4 linked regions of the Homo sapiens genome follow. The protein of the gene in region 3 purifies or fractionates together with the protein of the main gene of each other region. This does not show direct contact. Each region holds a gene or a part of one and is shown on either strand. Other genes may lie near its edges.

Region 1 (3,500 bases), on a different chromosome or scaffold from region 3:
AAGCCTCCAAGAAATATGGGACTATGTGAAAAGACCAAATCTACGTCTGATTGGTGTACCTAAAAGTGATGGGGAGAATGGAACCAAGTTGGAAAACACTCTGTAGGATATTATCCAGGAGAACTTCCCCAATCTAGCAAGGCAGGCCAACGTTCAGATTCAGAAAATACAGAGAATGCCACAAAGATACTCCTCGAGAAGAGCAACTCCAAGACACATAATTGTCAGATTCACCAAAGTTGAAATGAAGGAAAAAATGTTAAGGGCAGCCAGAGAGAAAGGTCGGGTTACCCTCAAAGGGAAGCCCATCAGACTAACAGCAGATCTCTCAGCAGAAACCCTACAAGCCAGAAGAGAGTGGGGGCCAATATTCAACATTCTTAAAGGAAAGAATTTTCAACCCAGAATTTCATATCCAGCCAAACTAAGCTTCATAAGTGAAGGAGAAATAAAATCCTTTACAGACAAGCAAATGCTGAGAGATTTTGTCACCACCAGGCCTGCCTTACAAGAGCTCCTGAAGGAAGCACTAAACATGGAAAGGAACAACCGGTACCAGCTGCTGCAAAATCATGCCAAAATGTAAAGACCATCGAGACTAGGAAGAAACTGCATCAACTAACGAGCAAAATAACCAGCTAACATCATCATGACAGGATCAAATTCACACATAGCAATATTAACTTTAAATGTAAATGGACTAAATGCTCCAATTAAAAGACACAGACTGGCAAATTGGATAAAGAGTCAAGACCCATCAGTGTGCTGTATTCAGGAAACCCATCTCACGTGCAGAGACACACATAGGCTCAAAATAAAAGGGTGGAGGAAGATCTACCCAGCCAATGGAAAACAAAAAAAGGCAGGGGTTGCAATCCTAGTCTCTGATAAAACAGACTTTAAACCAACAAAGATCAAAAGAGACAAAGAAGGCCATTACATAATGGTAAAGGGATCAATTCAACAAGAAGAGCTAACTATCCTAAATATATATGCACCCAATACAGGAGCACCAAGATTCATAAAGCAAATCCTGAGTGACCTACAAAGAGACTTAGACTCCCACACATTAATAATGGGAGACTTTAACACCCCACTGTCAACATTAGACAGATCAACGAGACAGAAAGTCAACAAGGATACCCAGGAATTGAACTCAGCTCTGCACCAGGCGGACCTAATAGACATCTACAGAACTCTCCACCCCAAATCAACAGAATATACATTTTTTTCAGCACCACACCACACCTATTCCAAAATTGACCACATACTGGGAAGTAAAGCTCTCCTCAGCAAATGTAAAAGAACGGAAATTATAACAAACTATCTCTCAGACCACAGTGCAATCAAACTAGAACTCAGGATTAAGAATCTCACTTAAAACCGCTCAACTACATGGAAACTGAACAACCTGCTCCTGAATGACTACTGGGTACATAACGAAATGAAGGCAGAAATAAAGATGTTCTTTGAAACCAACGAGAACAAAGACACAACATACCAGAATCTCTGGGACGCATTCAAAGCAGTGTGTAGAGGGAAATTTATAGCACTAAATGCCCACAAGAGAAAGCAGGAAAGATCCCAAATTGACACCCTAACATCACAATTAAAAGAACTAGAAAAGCAAGAGCAAACACATTCAAAAGCTAGCAGAAGGCAAGAAATAACTAAGATCAGAGCAGAACTGAAGGAAATAGAGACACAAAAAACCCTTCAAAAAATTAATGAATCCAGGAACTGGTTTTTTGAAAGGGTCAACAAAATTGATAGACTGCTAGCAAGACTAATAAAGAAAAAAAGAGAGAAGAATCAAATAGATGCAATAAAAAATGATAAAGGGGATATCACCACTGATCCCACAGAAATACAAACTACCATCAGAGAATACTACAAACACCTCTACGCAAATAAACTAGAAAATCTAGAAGAAATGGATAAATTCTTGGACACATACACTCTCCCAAGACTAAACCAGGTAGAAGTTGAATCTCTGAATAGACCAATAACAGGAGCTGAAATTGTGGCAATAATCAATAGCTTACCAATCAAAAAGAGTCCAGGACCAGATGGATTCACAGCCGAATTCTACCAGAGGTACAAGGAGGAACTGGTACCATTCCTTCTGAAACTATTCCAATCAATAGAAAAAGAGAGAATCCTCCCTAACTCATTTTATGAGGCCAGCATCATTCTGATACCAAAGCCAGGCAGAGACACAACAAAAAAAGAGAATTTTAGACCAATATCCTTGATGAACATTGATGCAAAAATCCTCAATAAAATACTGGCAAAACGAATCCAGCAGCACATCAAAAAGCTTATCCACCATGATCAAGTGGGCTTCATCCCTGGGATGCAAGGCTGGTTCAATATACGCAAATCAATAAATGTAATCCAGCATATAAATAGAGCCAAAGACAAAAACCACATGATTATCTCAATAGATGCAGAAAAAGCCTTTGACAAAATTCAACAACCCTTCATGCTAAAAACTCTCAATAAATTAGGTATTGATGGGACGTATTTCAAAATAATAAGAGCTATCTATGACAAACCCACAGCCAGTATCATACTGAATGGGCAAAAACTGGAAGCATTCCCTTTGAAAACTGGCACAAGACAGGGATGCCCTCTCTCACCACTCCTATTCAACATAGTGTTGGAAGTTCTGGCCAGGGCAATTAGGCAGGAGAAGGAAATAAAGGGTATTCAATTAGGAAAAGAGGAAGTCAAATTGTCCCTGTTTGCAGACGACATGATTGTATATCTAGAAAACCCCATTGTCTCAGCCCAAAATCTCCTTAAGCTGATAAGCAACTTCAGCAAAGTCTCAGGATACAAAATCAATGTATAAAAATCACAAGCATTCTTATACACCAACAACAGACAAACAGAGAGACAAATCATGAGTGAACTCCCATTCACAATTGCTTCAAAGAGAATAAAATACCTAGGAATCCAACTTACAAGGGATGTGAAGGACCTCTTCAAGGAGAACTACAAACCACTGCTCAAGGAAATAAAAGAGGACACAAACAAATGGAAGAACATTCCATGCTCATGGGTAGGAAGAATCAATATCGTGAAAATGGCCATACTGCCCAAGGTAATTTACAGATTCAATGCCATCCCCATCAAGCTACCAATGACTTTCTTCACAGAATTGGAAAAAACTACTTTAAAGTTCATATGGAACCAAAAAAGGAGCCCGCATCGCCACGTCAATCCTAAGCCAAAAGAACAAAGCTGGAGGCATCACACTACCTGACTTCAAACTATACTATAAGGCTACAGTAACCAAAACAGCATGGTACTGGTACCAAAACAGAGATATAGATCAATGGAACAGAACAGAGCCCTCAGAAATAACACCGCATATCTACAACTATCTGATCTTTGACAAACCTGAGAAAAACAAGCAATGGGGAAAGGATTCCCTATTTAATAAATGGTGCTGGGAAAACTGGCTAGCCATATGTAGAAAGGTGAAACTGGAT
Region 2 (4,086 bases), on a different chromosome or scaffold from region 3:
GTGATAAGAAAAGTTATACTTCCGTGCTATCTTCTATAATTTTTAAATGGGTAGGAGGAAATGCAGAATCTAATTTAGCTTTTATTTTTTATTTATTTATTTATTTTTTGAGACAGGGTCTCACTCCCTCACCCAGGCTGGAGTGCAGTGGCGTGATCTCAGCTCACTGCAATCTCTGCTCCACCAGCCTCAAGTGATCCTCACACTTCAGCCTCCTGAGTAGCTGGGACCACGGGCATGCACTACCATTTCTAGTTTGTTTGTGGTTTCTTGTTTTTTTTTTTTTTTTTGTATTTTTGGTAGAGCTGTGGGGGCGGGGGTCTTTTTTTTGCCCAGGCTGGTCTCTAACTCCTGAGCTCAAGCAATCCACCCACCTCAGCTTCCCAAAGTGCTGAGATGACAGGTGTGAGCCATCACACCCAGCCTAATGTAGCCTTTTTAAGAGTTTTGTTTTGTTTTTACTTTTTGGAGAACTTCTTTAAATAGGCATCAACCATCAACCTTGCACCTTGGAGCAGCTTCCCAGGGCTTAAAACAACACCTGACCAACCCAGCCAAAGCCAAAGCCAAAGTCCAGTTCACCGCCCCGAAACCACTATCACCATTCTTAGGTGGTCACCGAGGACCCCATCCCACCTTCAAATCCTCCTTCCTTCTATCCATCCCCTCCCCCATAGCAATTACAGTATCTCAATCCTTTCAGGCTAAACAGGGTATCTCCCAAAACAACAACAAGTTTATCTGATTCGTTAGCCCTTAAGGGTAAAAGCCATTGAAAACTAGCCCTACTCCCTCCTTCCTCCCTGCCCTCAAACCAGGCTCCCATCTTCTCCGGTCAATATCAGGAACGATCCCTAGAACTAATTCAGTGGTGGGAAGTTGGGTCTGGTATGGGCAGGCTACGTGACAGCCAGCAAAGGAGCTCACCTGGAGCTGTGGCCCCACACAGGGCACTTGCCGTGTGGGCAGCTGCCCACCCTGCCACCTTAGTGCCTCTTGGTTCTGCTTCAGCCTAGGCAGAGAATGATCTGATCCTCTCTTATTCTCTCAACCCACTCAAGTATGGGCCACCCACACTGCAAACACAGAATAATGAGTCTCCAGAACTGGAGATGCAGCCCCAGACAAAGGCCTAGAACTCCAGACCTTCCAAAAACTTAACTAATCCCTGGGGTTTGAGTCCTACGTGAAAATGAGAGGTTAGGACTCAGTCCTTAAGGTCCTTTCCATTCTCACAATCAAGATCCAAGATTCAGCTCAGGTCCTCAGGCCATTCAGCCTAAAGTCGGAGAATGTCCTGAGCTTGTATAATTTTGGCAATTTTGACTGACATGTGGAATCCAAGTTATGGCTGGGTATGGGGTTGGTGTTGCAGGCTGCTTTACTGCTTAATGATTACTAATACATTACAGAAAAATGGATGAAAACACTTCAAGATCTCTTGATTTAATGATTTAACATTAAGTCATTTAAAATGATGGAAAATGAAATGGTAACACAGCTAAGGCACAAGCACCAAATCTTTTTTATCTTTGGAAATGAATTCATTCAATGAAATACATACTGTGGATGCTATGTGAGAAACAGTTCCCGTCAGCTGGGAGTCTAACACTGAGTATTACAGCCATTCCTTTGATTTTTCTCCCTCCCTCATATTTGGAGATTTTAAAACAAATGAAAGGCAGCATTATTTCAGCTTAAGGCACAGGCATAAGTCACATAAGAACAAAGAAGGTTTTATTATCACATTAAGCATTGAGGAGGAAATGTGCTTACCGATAACTAATTTAGTGTTCTAGGCTATTAGGTTAGTATTTGCTTCTTGCAATCTTCTAGGCCAATATTTACTATTTATATCTTGATGGAGGTAAAAATGTTCAGCTAGTGAGAAGGTCATTAAGGAGAGAAAGAAAAAAAAAAGCCCTTGGAAAATGGAACAAAGTACACAGATAGGGAGAAAGGTACCCTTTGCGCCTCAGTGGTCTATAGAACATTTGCCCTCTCTGCCTATAAAGTGATTTAACATTAACCACATTTCACTCCAGCAGCAGAGTGCTATCTCCTGACAAAAACTCCTTTTTGAAAGCCTGGGGGAAAAAAAATCCACATACACAAAAGAATGTGAAACATATTGCCACAGGCCAGTGTCTTGGGCTTTTTGCCTAAGAGGTTTGCTTTCAGCAAAGAGAGGGGGGAAAAAAAACACTCTAACAACAACAGCTTGTACAGTACAGTGAACAGCCTCCCTGCTTTTTGGCAGACTTTCCCAGCGAACAGTTCCAGTGGCAGTGCCTTGAGCCCATTCAAGAATTCCATTTCATAGGAAAGGAAGTGTTTCAGATAGACCTATTTGATCTTTCAGCATGTGCAAATGCACCTGCTAAATAGCTAGTCTGACAGCCCATATAGCCCTCTCCCCAGTTCCTTCTTCTCTGTCTTCACCAGTAATCATATGGGTTATTTCAGACTTGGACTAGGTGAGATGAAAAGTACATAAAAATCACGCCAAACGTTGCTACTGCTGCTGCACGAGCTCAGGCTCGACGTGCAGATGGAATTCCCTTCTCCCCACGCCAACTTCCCTGTCACTTTCTTCCTGGAGCAGGTAAGAGGGTTTTGTTTTGTTTTCAGCTTCCGAAGGCTTACCTCGAGGTGGCTTCCTCCCCTGCCTTTGCATGGCTGTTCCCGACGGTCTGGTCCTTGCCGCTGGGGTGGTAGGCTGTTAGTACCACTCCCTGGGAACTGGAGAGCCAGCTCATGGTGAGAGAAGGGACATACTTTCTGCGATCCTGACACAGAGAAGGGGAAAGAAGTTCCTGTCTCGCCTGGCAACTCGCTCATTAGCATTGGCCAGCTCCTCCCCGCAGGCTGGCGATTCACACGGGGAGGGGCGGGGTCTGTCCAGGGAAGGGCTTCCTGCCTCTCCAATTAGAAGCTGCAACTCACAGCATGGTTTCAACTCTGGACAATTGCACTCTGGGCGGCTTTGGTTAAAGGAGGCGAAGGGTGGAAGCGACGGGTTGCACCCACCCCCAAGTTAGTCTGATCAGATTAAACTGCCAGAACGTATATTCAACTCATCACTGTAACTACAAGCCGTCTTACTTAGGAAACCATGAGTTGCTGCCAAGGCTTTTTTTTTTCCCTCCCCAATTCCTCTATCTTATAATTTCTGCTACTTAATGTAACATGAGTAAAGGCATTTCTTAACCCCTTCATGTTCAGCGTTAAAATTAGCCATAGTAAAAAACAACGAACCCGCGGCAAAACTCTGCAATCCAGACGACGAGAAAGGCTTGATCCTTGTGTCCGGTTAAAAATGCCCTCATAAAAATTGTGTGTCCTGGAATGTCGTCGTCTTTCACATAAAGCCAATCTCAAATATACGTCTTGTTTTAGCAAAATATTTTTCAGCACCAAAAAGGGATAGACCTACCAATGCTCTGTTAAGTGTTATTGCTGAGAACAAGAGAAGTCCCTGCCATTTGTTGAGCACCTACTATATGCCAAGCTCTCATGGACGGGGGTTTCACATGTATTATCTCATTCCATTCAATTCTCTCTCTCTCACACACACACACACACCGTACAAGATAGGTATCACTATCATCTGTGTTATACATAACACAAGGAAAGTAAGGCTGAGGGACGAGTTAAGTAACTTCACTAAGATAACACAGTTGCTAGTGCCAGAAGCTGGATTTGAACAGAATTCTAGGCTACATTCCTTTTATTTTTCACCAGTATGCTCTTCTTTGTTTTGCAGATTAAGAAACAAGATCAAAATTATCATAAACACAAAAGACAGCTCTGTTCTTTCTCCCCATCTCCCCTCCAAAAAAAAAAATCACTTTTTTGGTTTGTTTTTGAATCAGGGTCTCACTCTGTCACCCAGGCTGGAGTACAGTGGTGATTGTAACTCACTGCAGCCTCAACCTCCCAGGCTCAAGAAATCCTCCAGCCTCAGCCTCCCCAATAGCTAAGACCACAGGCATGCACTACCACGCCCAGCTAATTTTTTTATGCTTTGTGGAGAGGGAGGGTCTCACTGTGTTGCCCAGGCTGGTCTTGAACTCCTGGGCTCAA
Region 3 (3,500 bases):
CTGCCTGCTGCTGCCTCTCATTCTCGAGAGCAGGCACCAAAGGACCGAGGCATTTCTCTAGTTCTTTTCCAAACTATGATTTGATCTACACAGGGGAAGAACATTTTATATTTAAACATGCGAAGAAGTCACACTCTAGGATTTAGCAGGACCGAGGGAGGGATGCGTCTTGGTCATGTCCTGAGTACACGCTGCACAGGGCTGACAGCCTGGCTGCGTAACCACCCGTGAATGAACACGACTGATGAGAGGTGGCACGGGCCTCTGAGGCTCAAGCTCCAAACTATTTTCATTGTTTGGAAAAGGACATTAAAATCATTGAACAATAGATCCAGGACTTTCCATTTTGAAACTGGTTAATATGGTAAGCATATTCCAGAAATATTCTTCAGGCCAGTGGCTGCTTGGCCCCTTGAGGCTGCCTGGGAAAGATGGGGGAGCCCCTGGCTGAGCCCTGCTGGACGGAGCGCCTGTGGCTACGCGCCCTGGTGACAAGACCAAGGTTCTTATTTTGGAGGCATTTACTGCTGGATTCAGTGGAAATGTCAGAGGTAAGCCCTTCATGTTGTCGTTAAACAGCAACACCAGGGGCGACTAGGGGTCAGATGCCCAGAGATGAGAGGCCTGTTGTGAAGAAGAGAACAGCTGCCTGGATCCATGACCATCAGAAGGTACCGAATGACCCCAGACATGCAGCAGAGGAGAGACAGACCAGCACATACGCTGTCTGTAAACAGAGCCAGAGTCAAGAAGAAAATCACAGCATCTTGATTCTTAGGAGCACGGGCAGAGTCTTGCAACTGCCAGGCAAGGGGCAGGTGCGGCTTCGGCAGAGCAGAGTGGGGGTGGCGCAGAGCTGGAGCCTGGCCTCCAACTTTGTGGAAAAATCGGCTGTCATTGGTTTCAAGATTTAAATACAAAAATTCAAGTCATAAAGGTTCTATGATGAAATACACTAATAATTCTATAACTTAAGGTAGAAAGGGCTGTTTAAAAGATAAGCAAAGCTAGAGGGCAAATGACAAACTAGGAAAACAAGCAGAACATGAAGGATCCATATAACATAGACAGAAGTGATGATCAACCCTAGAAAAACTGTCTAAAGCATGAACAAGTAATTCACTACAGAAATAAAAATAATAAACGTGTGAAGAGAATGTCCAGCTGTCGCATAGAAAATCTGAGGGCACACTGTTTAGGGGCTCCATTTCCCCACGGGGCAGCCGGCGGGAGGCAGGTGCGGCTGGAGTGCCACGGCTTATGCGTGGAAACCTCCAAAAACAAATGGTCTGACCGCAGCCATCCGAGCCTAGGAATGTATCCAGAGTCAACACCCACAGGCTGTGAAGGAAGCAGAGACACAGAGATGTTCAACATGGGGAGTTTCTAACAGCAGAGAGGGGAGGAGCCCAGGGCCTTCAGTGTGGGAGCCGTGTGAACATGGCTCGGGGACTGAGCTTGCAGCGCATGCCCACACACAGGGTGCCGAGGCCGCCACATGCGGCATCCCGTGTGTAAAAATCTATTTGTTTCTAATTTTCCCACAGTGTGCATGCACTTTTTAGGTTAAATATATAGAGACAGACGTGCACCTATACATAGCAGGATCGCCTGTCCGGTCACAACGTGGAGTTTCTGGGTGAAGACTGCAGAGTGAGACGTGTCCTCTTGAGACACCACTAAAGCCCTGCAAGCATCTTCCAAGGCGTAACACTCAGCACGGTGGGCAGAGAGCAGCCAGGGCACAAACCTGGAGGCCGGGAAGGAAGCGGGAGTGGCAGGGCCTGAGGAGAGCAGAGGCCAAGTCCCGAGACTCCACAGGACAGGGTGAGGGAGTGTCGGAGGGAAGGAGCTGGGCACCCTGCTCCACAGGGCCCAGGGTCTGTTCCCTGGCAGGTGAACACTGAGCTACGGCCAGGCTCTCCTTTCAGGCCGGGATTAGAGGAAAAGAATCAGACCGCCAGGGAGAAAATGCTAAAGATGCGTGGGCCACAGGCTTCCTAGCCAGGGGTCGCCAGGAAAGCCTCTGGCGCCAGAACAAACCCACAGAAGCCACAGACTGTGCAGACTCATCATGATTAGTATGGAGAGGGGACTGTTCAGAAAATAAGCCCATGGAGTTAAAAAGCAAGAGCAGAAACAAAAAACTCAATAATAGAGTTAGAGGGTAAAGCTGAGAAAAATCTACCTTACAAGGACAGCACACAGCCAGGGGTGGGGAAAATTAAGGCAACAGGACAGAAAACTCCAGAACCAGATGGAAGTGTGGAGCTGTGGGAAATGCGAGCGCCACGAAGGATGTCACAGAATTCCCAGAACAGAGGGGCGCAGTGCAGACACAAAGAGCACACCTGCCCTCGGTGCACCTGGGCGACCCTCAGGCACACCTGCCCTCAGTGCACCTGGGCGACCCTCAGGCACACCTGCCCTCAGTGCACCTGGGCGACCCTCAGGCACACCTGGGCCACCCTCAGGCACACCTGCTCTCAGTGCACCTGGGTGACCCTCGGGCACACCTGCCCTCAGCGCACCTGGGCAACCCTCAGATTCCAGAGCCCCGAGGACGACAGGAAAGTCTGTGGCTTCCACCGAGAAGCAGGGCACAGGCAGAAGGCTGGGAGTGGGATGGAAGCTAAGCACAGGCGCAGGGCCTTCCAGCTGGCGAAGGGAAACTAAAGTGACTGCTGGCCATGAAGGTGGAGTAGAGATGCTTTTAGATACCACGGCCTCAAAAATGCTCACCCCAAGATCCCTTTCTCTGGGAAGTCCTGGAAGTTATTCTGCATAAAACGCCAAAGTAAATGAAAAAAGAGGAAGACTTGGATACAGGAAATAGGAGACCACAGGATGGGGCAGAGTGGGGAGGGAGATGGAGGAGACCCCAGGAAGAGCAGAGGGAGGAGGGGAGATGGGGGAGACACCCCAGGAAGGAGTAGAACGAGGAAGGGAAGACGAAGGAGACCCCCCAGGACAGGCAGAGGGAGGAAGGGGAGATGGGGGAGATCCCCCAGGATGGGCAGAGGGAGGAGGGGAGATGGGGGAGACCCCCCCAAGGACGGAGTAGAACGAGGAGGGGAAGATGAAGGAGACTCCCAGGACGGGCAGAGGGAGGAGGGGGAGATGGGGGAGACCCCCTGGGATGGGCAGAGGGAGGAGGGGAGATAGGGGAGACCCCCAGAATAGGCAGTGGGAGGAGAGATGGGGGAGACTCCCAGGACGGGCAGAGGGAGGAGAGGAGAAGGAGGAGACCCCCAGGATGGGCAGAGAGAGGAGAGGAGATGGAGGAGACCCCCAGGATGGGCAGAGGGAGGACAGGAGATGGAGGAGACCCCCAGGATGGGCAGAGGGAGGAGAGGAGATGGAGGAGACCCCCAGGATGGGCAGAGGGAGGAGAGGAGATGGAGGAGACCCCCAGGATGGGCAGGGGGAGGAGGGGAAGATGGGGGAGACCCCCAGGATGGGCAGGGGGAGGAGGGGAGATGGAGCCAGGATAGAGCAGA
Region 4 (3,500 bases), on a different chromosome or scaffold from region 3:
AGCCCTAGCTTAAGGTTTTGGTGTTTTTTGTTTCTTGTTTTTCATCTTAAAGGCCCTGAAAAGTCCTGTAGGAAAGAAACACGTGTGATTTTGCTGGTGGGAGCAAGACGTGCCCAAGGCCGGGGCTGGGGAGGTAGAGAGGAGGGTTTGGATTTGGGAGATATCAGGAAGTTGAAAGCCAAGGACGCATTAAATGTGGGGTGAGGGCGTAAAGAAAGGGAGGGAGGGTGATTTCTCACTGCCTTGGGGGCAGGGAGGAGGGGAGGTGTGGGTGAGATGTTGAGAATTGTGGGAGATGCCCAGGGTGCAGTGGGGCCCGTGGCAGCCGCTGTTGCAGTCTTCAGGTGGCCCTGGAAGCCGTCACGGGGTAGGGTGGCCTGGGGTGGGGGTGGGGCATGTCCATTTACAAGGAGACGCCTGTGGGAGGAAGGTTTCTGGAAGAAGGAGGCACTGGGCACAGAGCCCAGGCGAGATACGGGCCCACAGATATGCTTTGGAGGTCCCTGCTGGCCTTGGGGAGACCGGAAGCCATGAGGGCAGCATCGAGCTCAGGGAAATTGAGGGAGAGGTGGAGGGGGGCTGGGAGGGCAGGGAGGAAGTGAGCCTGAAATACCTCTTCTTTCAAGGAGCCAAGATGAGAGGGGCAAAAAGAAGGTCCAAGTCTACATGCGGGTGGCGCGTTAAGTGGGACGGTCCAGTGTGGTTTTAGAAGGTGGGAAAGGAGCCAGGACAGGGAGGGACAGAAGGCAGCCAAGAGTGCCTGGGTCCTCACAGGTGGAGAAGTCCCGTTCAAATATGTTCTGAAGCACTAGAACCCCTTACCCTGTTCTTTCTTTTCTTTTTTTTTCTTTCTTTCTTTTTTTTTTTTTTAAGACAGAGGCTTGCTCTATCACCCAGGCTGGAGTGCAGTGGCGCAATCTCAGCTGGCTGCAACCTCTGCCTCCCAGATTTAAGCGATTCTCCGGCCTCGGCTTCCCGAGTAGCTGGGATTATAGGCGTGTGCCACCATGCCCAGCTCATTTTTGTATTTTTAGTAGAGATGGGGTTTCACCATGTTGACAAGGCTGGTCTTGAACTCCTGACCTTAAAAGATCTGCCTACCTTGTTTTCCCAAAGTGCTGGGATTACAGGCATGAGTCACTGCACCCGGCCCCCACCCCGTTCTTTCAAACACACACACAGAACCCCAATATACAAAACAAGTCTGGGCACAGTGGCTTACCCCTATAATCCCAGCACTTTGGGAAGCCAAGGCAGGTGGATCACTTGAGGCCAGGAAATTCGAAACCAGCCTGAGCAACATGGTGAGGCTTCCATCTTTATAAAAAAATTTAAAAATTGGCTGGGTGTGGTGGCACGTGCCTGCGGTCCCAGCTACTCAGGAGGCTGAGGCAGGGAGGATCCCTTGAGCCCAGAGTTCAGGTTGCAGTGAGCCATGATCGTGCCACTGCACTCCAGCAAAAACTCAAACAAACAGAGAAGGCTGTGCAGGCTGGGCGTGGTGGCTCACGCCTGTAATCCCAGCACTTTGGGAGGCCAAGGTGAGCAGATCGCTTGAGGTCAGGAGTTCAAGACCAGCCTGGCCAAAATGGTGATAACCCTGTTTCTACAACATACAAAAATTAGCCGGGTATGGCAGCATCGCACCTGTAATCCCAGCTACTTGGGAGTCTGAGGCAGGAGAATCATTCGAGCCCGGGAGGCAGAGGTTGCAGTGAGCCAAGATTGCACCACTGCCCTCCAGCCTGGGCGACAGAGAGACTCTTATCTCCAAAAAACCGCAAAAGCTGTGCAGATTAGAACAAGAGCTGGACAGATTCCCTGCTGTTGATTTCAGTCACCTCTTCCCCGACCCCTGCCAAGCCTTCCTGGCCTTCTCCTCTCCACTCTTGGTCCTACGTGGATTTCTGCCCCCAGCCCACTGTCCACCTGGGGCTTCCTCACGCCTCTTCCCATTGTCCTATTTAGGGACCTCAGGCTGTCTCTATGATGTGACCTCACCATCTCTCTAAGCCCCAGCCTTTCACATAATCTGCCTCAAGGATGTCCTCAAAGCCCCTCACATTCAATTTCACCCCTTCACCTCCCATTCCTCCTGCACCCAAGCTCAGTCATTACCCCTCTCTTCCCTCTTCCCCCTCAGACCCAGCAAGGTCCTGGCTACCTCCCTCTCTGTCCCTTGCCTCCTCCCTTCAATCACCAGGTTTACATCACTCAACTCCCTCGATGTGCCTGTGGTGTGCCCACCTCCCCTGCTCGCCTGTGTGCCCCCCACTCATCCCCCCCTGCCTGCAAGCTAAGAGAGGGCGTCCAGTTTGCTGGGTCTAACCCCAGTCCTGGTGTTGAAGAGTTATTTGGCCTGGGGCAAGGGACTTTCCTTCTCTGTGCCTCAGTTTCCTCCTCTGTAACATGGGGGTTGCCAATTGGGCCCTGGCTGCCTCCTAGCGTTGATGTAAGGCTCAGTGAGTCTACATTGGCAAGAGCAGGAAGGCTCTTAGGATTGCCGATGTTATTGTCTTTCCTGGGACCTACAAGAGCCAGTCCAGCTGGCCTGGTATTGGGGGTAGCCTCCCCTCCTTTCCACTCTAAGTGCCCATCAGCTCCCTGAGGCACCGTGTTCTCTCCCACCTGCTGGGCTTTGCATCTGCAGGCCCCTCTGCCTACAACGCCATCACCCCTTCCTCCAGCAAACTCCTGCACATCTGCACTCTCAGCCCAGATCCCCTTTCTCCTTTCCCAATGCCATCCTCCCTGGTCCAGACACACTCTTAATCCGGGCCATGTGGTGTGTGTGTGTGTGTGTGTGTGTGTGTGTTGTATCTGGTGACCCTGACCCCCGTGTTTCCCCTCTATGCCCCCACAGAGCACGTGCCCCCGGAGCTGTGGGAGCCCTTCTATACCGACCAGTACGCGCAGGAGCATGTGAAGCCCCCGGTGACACGGCTGCTGCTCTCAGCCGAGCTCTACTGCAGAGCCTGGCGCCAGGCACTGCCACAGCTTGAAACACCCCCCAACCCCTCTGCACTGCTGGCCCTGCTGGCGCGGAGGGGCACAGTGCCTGCTTTGCCCGAGCGCCCGGTGCGCGAGGCCGACCTGAGGCACCAGCCCATTCTCATGGTAGGCCCCGCCACTGCCTGTTAGACCACGCCTACCATGCTCAGCTCCTCCCCTCAAGCTCCTCCCGCCAGTCCTGGCTCCTCCCAAGTTCCCTCTATCAGTCTTGGCTCCTTTCAAGCTTTGTCGATTAAGCCTAGCTCCTCCCATCAGGCTTGGCTCCTCCCCCAGGTTCCTCCCACCAGGCCTGGCTCCTCCCCTCAAGCGCTATTAAGCCTAGTTCCTCCCACGAGGTCTGGCTCCTCCCCTCAAGCGCTATCCATTAAGCCTAGCTCCTATCAGTCTTGGCTCCTTCCCTTAAGCTATGTCCATCAAACCTAGCTCCTCCTATCATCAGTCTTGGCTCTGTCCCTTAAGCTCTGTCCATCAAACCTAGCTCCTCCCAC

What was found.
Region 1: the proteins of PLEKHG4B (region 3) and DSG1 purify together in Homo sapiens (affinity purification with mass spectrometry, with the first as the bait; one large-scale study listed by BioGRID). This does not show direct contact.
Region 2: the proteins of PLEKHG4B (region 3) and ARHGAP18 purify together in Homo sapiens (affinity purification with western blotting; one study listed by BioGRID and IntAct). This does not show direct contact.
Region 4: the proteins of PLEKHG4B (region 3) and CAMSAP3 purify together in Homo sapiens (affinity purification with mass spectrometry, with the first as the bait; one large-scale study listed by BioGRID). This does not show direct contact.

What each region holds. Positions count from the first base shown.
Region 1 is NC_000018.10:31,349,160-31,352,659, reverse strand, and holds part of DSG1 (desmoglein-1 preproprotein), read right to left. Parts: intron 1-3,500. UniProt on the Homo sapiens protein: Component of intercellular desmosome junctions. Involved in the interaction of plaque proteins and intermediate filaments mediating cell-cell adhesion.
Region 2 is NC_000006.12:129,707,378-129,711,463, forward strand, and holds the start of ARHGAP18 (rho GTPase-activating protein 18), read right to left. Parts: upstream 2,801-4,086; 5' UTR 2,760-2,800; coding exon 2,647-2,759; intron 1-2,646. UniProt on the Homo sapiens protein: Rho GTPase activating protein that suppresses F-actin polymerization by inhibiting Rho. Rho GTPase activating proteins act by converting Rho-type GTPases to an inactive GDP-bound state.
Region 3 is NC_000005.10:158,168-161,667, reverse strand, and holds part of PLEKHG4B (pleckstrin homology domain-containing family G member 4B), read right to left. Parts: intron 1-3,500. UniProt on the Homo sapiens protein: Guanine nucleotide exchange factor (GEF) which specifically activates small GTPase CDC42 by exchanging bound GDP for free GTP.
Region 4 is NC_000019.10:7,602,363-7,605,862, forward strand, and holds part of CAMSAP3 (calmodulin-regulated spectrin-associated protein 3), read left to right. Parts: intron 1-2,863; coding exon 2,864-3,117; intron 3,118-3,500. UniProt on the Homo sapiens protein: Key microtubule-organizing protein that specifically binds the minus-end of non-centrosomal microtubules and regulates their dynamics and organization.